Linked DNA regions of Homo sapiens. The protein of the gene in region 2 interacts with the protein of the main gene of each other region in a pairwise test. Each region holds a gene or a part of one and is shown on either strand. Other genes may lie near its edges.

Region 1 (7,849 bases), on a different chromosome or scaffold from region 2:
TCAGTTCCCAAAATGGATTCTAGTAATGACTGTAAGGGAAACACAATACACACACACACACATACACACACAGGTTACAATTTTTGATGTATCAATGTCTCCTCCATATCTTTGGGGCTGTTACTCTACTTGCAGGTACATTCTATAAAACATTTTGTTAGAGCTATGCCTTGGCTTTAGATGCAGTACAGCTGAGTTTCTAAGCTTTTTGTAGATAATCCGAGTGTACTAATATTTTCATGAATTAATATCCTGACACTATCAATTACTTTCTGTCTACTCATGTAGAGATCTGTCACTCTCCTTAATTTTAACTTTTAGTAGATGAGAAACAGCTTTGATAACGCAAACATTTCTTTTTCCCTGAATTAGTTGGTGAAACATATACTTTTCACATCTCATTTTGTGTGCCTGTATATTTCATTCGTGAATAACATTTATTCCTTACCTTGAAACAGGTCAGACTGAAATTGGGCCTTCTACCACTAGACTGAAAAGACCTAGAATTCATCGACAGCACAGATACAACAAAAGCCTTCATGGAATACAAAAACTCCAATTTTCATAGGATATCCTTGACCTCAGTGATGAATCATGAGGGCGTAGAGGGTTGAGAAAAAAGTAGGCACATCACTACTGTTTCTAACCAGATATCTCGAAGCTATTTCAGTTCCAGGAATTCTGTCTGCTCCTGTTTTTACTTCATTAGCAATTCAACATGTCTGATTTGCCCACACAATACTTTCCAGCTACTTTACCCATTTGACCTGGAACAAAGTGAAAGCACATTTTGCCCAGTTGAAAGGTCTCCTGGCAGGTTGGTTAGCAACAGGCTTGCCAGTCTGGGTTCTGTTAGCAAAGAATAAACACATTTCATTAGACAATGACTAGTGGACTGACTTCCTCACTATGAAGTTGTTTTTTTTTTTCTATTTTATTTTCTTCAGCCATTCCCCCTCCCCCACCACTTGTTATTCAACTTTTTACTTGTAATTCTTGCCTCGATACGATTTCCAATTTCTTGACGGCAGACATTTCCACGTCTTTGTGGCTGTGATTAACGCAGTCTAATTGCCAAGAACAGGTACCGAGTAAAAGTTTATTTGAAGGAAAGAAAAGCGACACAGCAGTCTTACATCGTCCCTCGGTAGTTTAAAGTTGTGGCTAGATACGTATCAATTAAGGAATCAAGCTGAGGCATCTGCAAGTACCAATTTTACTGTAATGCTCTAAAATTTGGTCACTTGGGGAAGTCTTTACTTGTAACAGTGTAAGTACACAAGGGACAGGAGGGTTTTGCGAGAAAGGCGGGCGCTCTGCCCTGTTCTGCCCGTGACATGATGACGTAAGAACGACTCCCAGAAACTGCCTGAGTCGCCTGCGTCCCCAGCTCCCCGATGTGCACCTGGGCGCGGGACGCCGCAGGACGGAGCGAGAGCGCTCCTCGGTCCCGCTCCCCTGCGCACGGGCCGGCGAGGACCCGGGCGTCTTCACCCCCACAGGAAGGAGCAGAGAGAGCCACCCGAAGTCGGCCTCGAGTCATCCGTGTCCCCGGGTGCCCTGCCTCTCCAGGATACCTGCGTAACTCGCAGCAGCCAAGCCCCACTACGTTCAAAAGTGTGTTTGTGGTTGTCACAGTGCACACCGAAAAGCTCGCTCCGCACCCGCAGAGTGCGCGGGGCCTCTGAGCCTGGAAACAAGCCCCTCCCAGCGCAGCTGTCGCCGCCGCCTGCGGGCTCCTTTCACTTTCTCACGGCCAAGTCACCCAGAGGGGCGCCGCTGCTGCCACCGCCGCTGCGCCCGAGGACTCCGCCCCGCGCCGCTTCGCTCCGGATCCCCGCCCGCCCGAGCCCCGCCCACCCCAACAGTTGCTGCCTGCGATTGGAACGCGCGGGAGGGCAGCTACGGCTCGCCACCCCCATTGGCTGGGCCCCCTTGTCAGTCCGACGACTGCCCACCACCCCCTCCGCCTTCCCGAAGAGCCGCCTTCCCATTGGAGGAGTCTGAGGGCTGGGGGCGGGCGGGGAGCGCCGGTCCAGCCGCTTTCGGTCAATCGCAGAAGCCCAACGCCCGGAGGGAGGGAGGCAGGGGAAGGAGAGGGGCGGACTGAGGGTGGGGGGAACATCTGGCCGGCGCCGCCGCGTGCGTGCGTGGTGCGTCCTCCCGCCCCCTCCCCTCCCCCTCCCCCGCGCCCGCCCCCCCCCCGCCCCCGCCCCCCCACCCGGCCCGGCGGCTCCGCGCTCGCTCCCTCGCTCGCTCCCTCGCTGTGTCTGGCAGGCTGCGGCCGCCGCTGGGCTGCTGCCATGGGGAGCCGTTGAGAGTGGGGCCCTCTTCGCTCCGCCGCGCTCCTCCGGCTGCCAGCGGGGGTGGGCGGGAGGGAGGGGCGGGGGGGAGCGGGCGACGGAGCCGGGATTGGGGGGTGGGGGGGCCGGGAGGGAGGGGGGCAAGAGCCGGAGGAAGCCCACCAAGTCCGGCGGCGGCGGCGGCGGCCGGGAGGAGGAGGAGGAGGAGGCGGAGGACGCGGCGGCGGCGGGGACGCGGTGACTTAGGGCCGCTCCGTGTGAGTCCCGGCGCCGGCCCCTGGCCCCTGACCTGGCGCCCCCTCCGCGCCCCGGCACCCCGGCGGGCGGGGGGCGCCAGCTGTGCGGCCCCGGCCGGCTGGGCGGCGCGGGCGGAGGGCGGGCCGGGTCGGGGGCGCCCCCGCGAGTGGAGTTAGTTTGTGTGGTTGGAGCTGTTGGGGCGGCGGGGGGCGGCGCAGCTGCGGGAGGCCCGGGCGCGGGGACGGGGCCGCTGCAGCTGCGGGGTCGGGCGGGGTGCGGGTTCCCGGCTCCGCGCCGCGCCCCCGCGGGCCGGTGCAGCTGCGGCGCGGGGCGGGCTCCCGGCCGGTGCAGCTGCGGTGGCGCCTCTCGGGTGCGGAGGGCGGCGGGCTGGGGGAGGGGGCTTGGGAGCAGCCGCAGCTGCAGTGGCGCCCGGGACGGCCGCGGCTCCGGGGACCGGTGCAGCTGCAGTGGCGCCCGGGGGAGGGGGCCGGCGGGGGAGGGGGCCCTCCCGGGCTGGTGCAGTTGCCCGGAGGCCCCGGGGGCTCGCGCGTCGCGGCATCGGGGAAGCGGTAGCAACCACTCTCCTCCCGCTGGCTGCTTCTTACGACTTTTCTTTTGTTGTTGCCGTGACCCGGGTCTGTTTTCTCCTCTGTTGTTTAAGGTGTTTTCCTGCTGCACCGGCTCTGCGCCCTCCACCTCCTTCCCTGTGGTTTTAACCTTCCTCTTTCCCCGTGTGTTTTATGCACGGCGAACTACGTAAAGATTTGCATTGCTTCCCCACTCGGCACCCCCGCCCCCACCTCTCTGAAAAACAAAACCCCAACCTCACAAAACCTCTATGGATCCGCGGTAGCGAGACGTGAAGGGGTTGATTTGTGGAGTGGGAGTTGCTGGCCCATTGCGGTGCCCGGGACTCATTAAACTGTCACTCACCCCCCACCCCACTGGGTAAATGGGGTGATTAATGTCTGATATATTGGAATGGGTCGAGGGCATTTGTGGAGAATAGGTGGTGTGGCTGGGAAGAAATTGATCTCCCGAGGATGTCTCCTGGACTAAGTGTTCATAATTATGTCACTCACCGCGAAGTTGGAGAAAGTTAGGTTTGTGACTTTGGGAAAGCGAGAAGGACAGGACGGAGTCGTCGGGTTTTGTTACTCTTTAACTCTCCGCCACGGCTTTCTAATGGGAACGAAGTGGTTATCACCAGGGCTGGGACGCTGGCGCCTCAGGCCCCAGTTCCTTTTCTACCCCTCGCCCTCCCAAGAGTCTGAGGAGATGTATTTGACATTCAGAGATGTCGCAGCACCCTGCCCGGTACCGGTCAGCCCAGCCCGGGTCGCGTTACAGTTTCATCAGCTATTAGAAAAGACCCACAAACTGGCTGAAAAGTTCTCAAACTTACTAGACCTGGCTTCCCCCCACACAAAGATTTTCTTGTGATCATAAACATTAGAGTGACCCCCCCCCAAAGAAAAAAAAGATTGTTAAGGGACACAGATCAAGGGGAAGGCAAGGTTCTGCTTTTTCTGAGCAGAAAGATCAGATATGCAGGTGCAGCATTCATTTTAAGTGACTGGAGCAGGTTGTATCAGTTTATTAATTGGTCTCGTTGAACTGAAGTACTTTCCAGGATTTCAGAAAGTGCAGTTTCAGCTTGTTGGTACCGAGAATTGAAATTTGCATTGACTGTGGCAGTGTAAGAAATTTTTCTGAGAAGGTAGTTGTAGATAAGTAATTACATAAGAGTGAAATAATAAGGTGAACCAGTCTGAAGTAATAGTTCTGAACAAGTCTGCCAACATTTGAGACATGTATACCATTATCTCAGCAGAAAAAAATAAAAAAGTGCGGTAATAATGTTGAAATGGGACTGGAGATGTCAAATGGGTTGGTTTAAAAATATCCCTAAACTGCTTTAGAAACTAAACGTTGGAGTTGAATAAAAGTGAATCTGGATTTCCTGAATAGCACCGTGGCTTGAGTGTGCTGTCAGTATGTAAGCCAGTCCACCAACTTAAGACAGAAGTGTTGCTATTCCATAAATACAGTAGAACTCCATATGCTGAGTTTTTCAATTTCTTCTGTTAGAAAGTTTGGAAAAAAAGGAAGACTTTGAAGTATTTTGTTTATACTAACAGAAGAGAAAAGTTCTCCTAAGAAAAAGCTGGTGGCAGGAGTGTAGAGGAGTAGCATATGGCATTAAAAGGAGCACAGCTGGAGGTAGCATTTCCATCTGAACATGATGTCAGAGCAGCTGACAGCCTGCCATCCCTCAGCCTTTTATTCTAACACACAGACAGGGAGTTAGTGTGTGCGGATCTGTGGTGGAGAAGGTATCTCATTCCTCTCTAACATCATCTCCACTTTGCATCTGTCTCTCTTAGTCTGCTTTTTTTCCACCGATGTAACAGACCTGGAGCCAGCAGGACTCAGAGGAAAGGACTTAATCAGGTTTATGTGTCCTAAAGGTAGGAGTAGCAAGAGATTAGATTGAGCATATTTCTGTTTTGGTGTTTTGTTTATTTAATTTTAAAAATCACATTACTTTTCTAACCCAGTTTAGGAATAATATATGAAATTGAGTATTAAATGAACATCTTACTGGAGTTGAAAGTCTTGAGCTTGTTTAGTTTTAATTTTTTATCCCTTTTACTTGAGCGAGTAAATAACTTTAATACACAAATATTTCAAGTTTTGAAATGTTAAGAAAGGCTTTAAAATGCTGCTTTTGGAAATCACGTTGGATTAAAATGCTTTTTTGTTGTTCACTGCTATTTAGATTTGATTGGGGTGGTGGTGGTGGGGAAATAGTAAACTGGAATCCAGCATTCAAACTTATATGAGAAGATTATTCTAGTTAAGCAGCTAGATTGTTGTATAATTAATTCCTCTGTGAAACTTTATTCTTCAAAACATTGAGCAGCACTACTGAAACATACAGCTGTAGTGCTGTTGAAACTGCAGGTTTTTAAGAAGAAGAAAAAAAAACCAAACTTTTGTCCCCAGGAGAATAGTTTGACTGGTTTCCTCATTTCTCTTTCAAATATATATTTAAGAGATCTTTTATTTCAGCATAACAATAATTATTTGCAGGAGTTTTTGTGTTAGCGACTAATTTAGAACTTGTAGATTTGAGCTGCCTGAATTGGCCAGACAGCTGTAATCGCACTCCTCTATTCTTAATCTCTTTATCTGGGCAGCAGCTGCCATATGGCCACAGTCAGCTGGATCAGATGTTTATAAGCTTCCTTCTTCGTCCCTCTCTGTCCTCTCAGCCTCCTAATTTGATCACGGCTACCTTGTGAGCTGCCCTCCAATCTTTATTTTTAGCCTTCTCAAGGATTAGGATTGATGTTAGCTGTGGGGCACTTAAAGTGATTGTATTGTAAATCTTAGTTTATTCTAGCAGTGGCATCTTGCAGAATGTGTCTGGGGTTAGGATAAAGTTTTAGTCTGTCTTGGGCAAAGTGTAGAAGAACAAGAAGAAAGGAAGTAATTTCTGAATATTAAATTAAGTGTATCTATTCCCAAAATGCACTTGCTGAGATGGGTGGTGTGGAGGCTTGCTTCTGGTCACAGGAAAGGGGAAGTCGGGTCTTCTTTATTTTTCAGGAGTTTACCCACTGCAGTTGAATTCTGACCCTTTGTACATCTTTGCCTTTCTCCTCCCTCCATTTCACTTTCCCTCATCACAAAACAAGGGCAATGATGAATATTTGCAAGAATAGAAGCTAGTGGGAAAACAGAAATATATCAAATTATATTGAAACAAAGTATTTTCTGTTGGCTGAGGTAAGGCAGAACCAGGAAAAAAAAAAAGGTTCTCTTTTTCTAAAAAGGCTTAAAAAAAAACGTTGAACCTGTAAAGCTTTTGAGTTTTATTTAAGCGCTGTATGCCTTTATTTTTAAAAGTTTGAATTAATTTCAATATGAAACTCATTTTGCCTTGCAACGGATCAAAGTTTAGATGAGAATTTTCGGAGTTCAGTAAAGCCCCTCTGGTTCCTAATATTCTGAAAGTACAGTTTCTACAAAGAAATGTAACTACTTTTTTCTCAGTTCGTTTTGAAAAATCTTTGGATTTGTTCATAGTAAAGATGATCTTTTCCATCTGTTGGTGCAGCTCCTTCTGATCTCGTACATGTGTGCTATACCTGCAAATCTGAAGGCATTAACATCTGTTTTTATACACAGGGCTTTTGTTGTAACACCCTGACTTTAAAAGTAAGTTGTTTGCTAATTTCTGGACTAATTATGCAATTTCATTTTTTTTTCTTGATTCAGCCAAATGTGTGTGTGTGTGTTTAAACTGTGCTTTCTAAGCACAGTCAGGTAGCAAAAGTAATAAAAAGGATGGTTGAACAAGTTTTCTTGTATGTTCCAGGATATGTTTGGGACTTTTCTTTGTTTATTATATGAGTTGTTCCCTTTGAAATTAAAGCTATTTTGTAGGTTTTGTGGGACATAATTTGATAAGTAGAGTTAATTAAATTTCTTCTGGAAGAGATCTAAATTCTTATTCTTAGTGAGAGACTGTAGTTAAAGGAAGGCTTTTAGAACTTGGGTTCAAGGAAGATGGAGATGCGTCGGAAGCTCTTTGGCGGGGGTGAGGAAGTTCAGAAAGTGTGCATTTTCCTTCTGGCATTTAGGTCTTGTCCGTGTGATTTGGTGGTGCTTGGGTCATAAGCCTGATTAAAATTCAGGGACATGTACCACGGCGGCCAAAGCGGAATTAATTTTTTTATATGGGGACTGGAGCGCTGAAAAGTTGTTCCTGACCAGGCTCTAATGAGAAATTCCTCTCTCCCCAGGTTATGAAGACAGTATGGAGTTTCCAGACCATAGTAGACATTTGCTACAGTGTCTGAGCGAGCAGAGACACCAGGGTTTTCTTTGTGACTGCACTGTTCTGGTGGGAGATGCCCAGTTCCGAGCGCACCGAGCTGTACTGGCTTCATGCAGCATGTATTTCCACCTCTTTTACAAGGACCAGCTGGACAAAAGAGACATTGTTCATCTGAACAGCGACATTGTTACAGCCCCCGCTTTCGCTCTCCTGCTTGAATTCATGTATGAAGGGAAACTCCAGTTCAAAGACTTGCCCATTGAAGACGTGCTAGCAGCTGCCAGTTATCTCCACATGTATGACATTGTCAAAGTCTGCAAAAAGAAGCTGAAAGAGAAAGCCACCACGGAGGCAGACAGCACCAAAAAGGAAGAAGATGCTTCAAGTTGTTCGGACAAAGTCGAGAGTCTCTCCGATGGCAGCAGCCACATAGCAGGCGATTTGCCCAGTGATGAAGATG
Region 2 (2,703 bases):
TTTCTTGCTTACCTTGACTGTTGATGTACTGATTGAGAAGTTCATTGTCTCGTTTGTGATTCTTCCAGATGTGATGCTTGATATTTTCTATATGCGAGTTAGCCATCCACACCCAGGCATAGCCTGGATACAGTATAAAAATAGATAATTAAAAAGATGGTTGCCAAGCAAGGAAAACTTATTTTATATTTTCCCTTCCTTATTTTAAGCATTGTGAGTAAATCAGATGTTGAATTCTTTTGCCAAGGGAATTATAGCTGCAGGTTCTCTCTCACTGCCATCAAACTGTAAAAGATTAAACTGCGAAGTCAAGCTCAACAGATTATTTTGGAAAGTTTTTGTATTAAGGGATTTAGTAACATCATTTTGTTTTCCACCAGGCAGGGAGTAGGGCTTAGTGTTTTAAAACACCTCTGCTTTCTGATGTTGCCTTAATATTCTGCTATTGCAGCAATTAAAAATTGTCTTCATGTACATTTGGAACTAACACGTGATGTGATATATTCCTAAACTATGAAACCTTTTTCCTAGTAGTCAGCTAGATCATTTGTTCTGGGAGTATAAAGCCACCCACGTAAGTTAATAAGCAAAATCCTGACTATTATGTTGTTAGAGAAAAATGCTTTGCTTTGTCTGGAAGAAAGATAAAATAGTGAATTATAAATAAGTCAGGCCGGGCGTGGTGGCTCACACCTGTAATCCCAGCACACTGGGAGGCCGAGGCAGGGGGACTGCTTGAGCTCAGGAGTTCGAGACCAGCCTGGGCAACAAAGTGAGACTCCATCTCTATATAAAAACAAAAACCACGAAAGCACACACAAAATAAATCAGTGGGATTTGGTAATGTGTTTTAGAGTAAGAAATTTCAGGTTGTTGGTGACTATCCCAACAGTCATGTTTTAAATGTACAGTTTGGGGCAAGTCATGTAAATACTGTTGGTGGTCTTCCCCACACGCCCCAATTTTCAGGTAGTACTAAGAGTATGTGCCAGGAAACTCTTGCTATTGAATTGAGATGATTAAAATGGTGACTTAATCCGTAGTTATTTTGCACCCACTGAAAGGAAAGTGCTTTCCAGAATAATATGAAGTATCTAAAAGTGTCACCTTTTCTTGCCTGATCAACAATTTGGGCTTCCTGTTTGTACAAGGGGCCATTTGGCATACCTTTCACAGCTTTTATCAGGCCAAGTTAAAGGCTGACTACATTTTTTCATCATGAGGAAAGCAGTTGAAATGAGGCATGAGTTACTGTGCATTGGGATTTTAGAACAATTTTCTTGTGACAGCTCTTTTTGTGAAGTTAGGTTCTTAAAAGTGCCCATGATGGTCACTTAAAATGTGCAGTAATAGCACTGCCAGGATCAAGCATGAAAGGCTTTTAAATTAGATCATCCCACAGACAATACGTTTGATAATAGTTTTTTCTTTTAACCTCTTTAAGTATTGATTCTGCTTGAGAATATTGAAGTACTTGCCAGAAGTTGTGGATTTCAGTTTTAACAAATGCTATTAAAGTGGAGAAGCACACTCTGGTCTTGGAATTCCATTTGAGGATTTAGAAGTGTCATGTTTATAACTATTCAGTTGTGTTTGTTGCTGGCTTGTTGTAAAGCAATAAAATTTTTTTGGTCTTTTTGTAAGTGAGTGTGCTGCTGTAAGAAATCTCCCATGTGCATAACAAATTCTGAATATTTTTTGAGGCTAAAGAAGACCGGGGTGACAAGCAGATACTGCTGTGTAATGGTTACACTAACCAAAAGACACCAGCCACTCAGAGTTCTATACTGTAAAGCGCAGATAACATTTGTGTGTTATACCTTGATTGGGGAATTAAAAGTCATTTAACTGAAGATGTTGAGAAACCTGGGCTCTGGTTTTAGTATACCGGAATTACTTTTTTCCAATTTTAGAAAATCAAGCAGGTTAGAGAAAATAGAGATGAATTAGGGGACACTGTCTTATGGATTCATTTATAAGAAGAGAACCAGCCATATACACTTGGGGAGATTTGCCACATCTTAAACTTGAATAATAGTATGAGTAATGCTTAAGGGAGTTTAATAGAGAAGGAAAGCTTTGGCAGTGTTTTGAGAACTTAAGTGGCTAAAGAGATGAGACAAACATGCAGGTCGCTACTGGCATAGTTTCATAATTGTGTACTCGGAAATTAAAGTTTGCTTGTTTCTTGGTCTGGATTAAACTGTTTGTCCTCCTTTTCAGATAGAGCATCACAGTCAGGGCTGACACCAAAATAAGACTTTCCCTGAGCCTGAAATAATTTTTTTTTTTTTTTAAGTATCTACTGTAATAAGCATCAAACAAGCAGAAATAAACAATGTCCCTTCCCCTGGACAACAACAACAGCAATAACAAACATTTAAAGGCGGTAAAATTGCCAGGACTGGTGGGTTGGTTGAGTGGGCTGGGTGCGGGTAGTAGGACGAGATGGGACGGGACGGGGAGGAATCTAGCATCGCTGCCAGGTTTCTGGCTCAGGTTTGGTGCCATTCACTGAGGTGAGGAGTGTAGGAAGATCGCATGTCTGGAGGGGGCTGGGCAGCTGATGCATTTGCTTTTGGATGTGTTGGATTTATGACACTGGAGCGGCAGGTGGATAAATCAAAAGTGGGTAAGATCTCCCTGGAGAACGTGTAGAATGAGAAGAGTCACAAGCTGGGGACAAATTCTTGGTTAACAGCA

What was found. Proteins that work in one complex are often made in the same cells at the same time.
Region 1: the proteins of TSN (region 2) and ZBTB18 interact in a two-hybrid assay, tested with the Homo sapiens proteins (one study listed by BioGRID).

What each region holds. Positions count from the first base shown.
Region 1 is NC_000001.11:244,046,434-244,054,282, forward strand, and holds the start of ZBTB18 (zinc finger and BTB domain-containing protein 18), read left to right. Parts: upstream 1-4,849; 5' UTR 4,850-4,998; coding exon 4,999-5,011; intron 5,012-6,666; exon of another isoform or gene 6,667-6,767; intron 6,768-7,061; exon of another isoform or gene 7,062-7,354; coding exon 7,355-7,849.
Region 2 is NC_000002.12:121,765,651-121,768,353, forward strand, and holds the end of TSN (translin), read left to right. Parts: 3' UTR 1-2,203; downstream 2,204-2,703. UniProt on the Homo sapiens protein: DNA-binding protein that specifically recognizes consensus sequences at the breakpoint junctions in chromosomal translocations, mostly involving immunoglobulin (Ig)/T-cell receptor gene segments.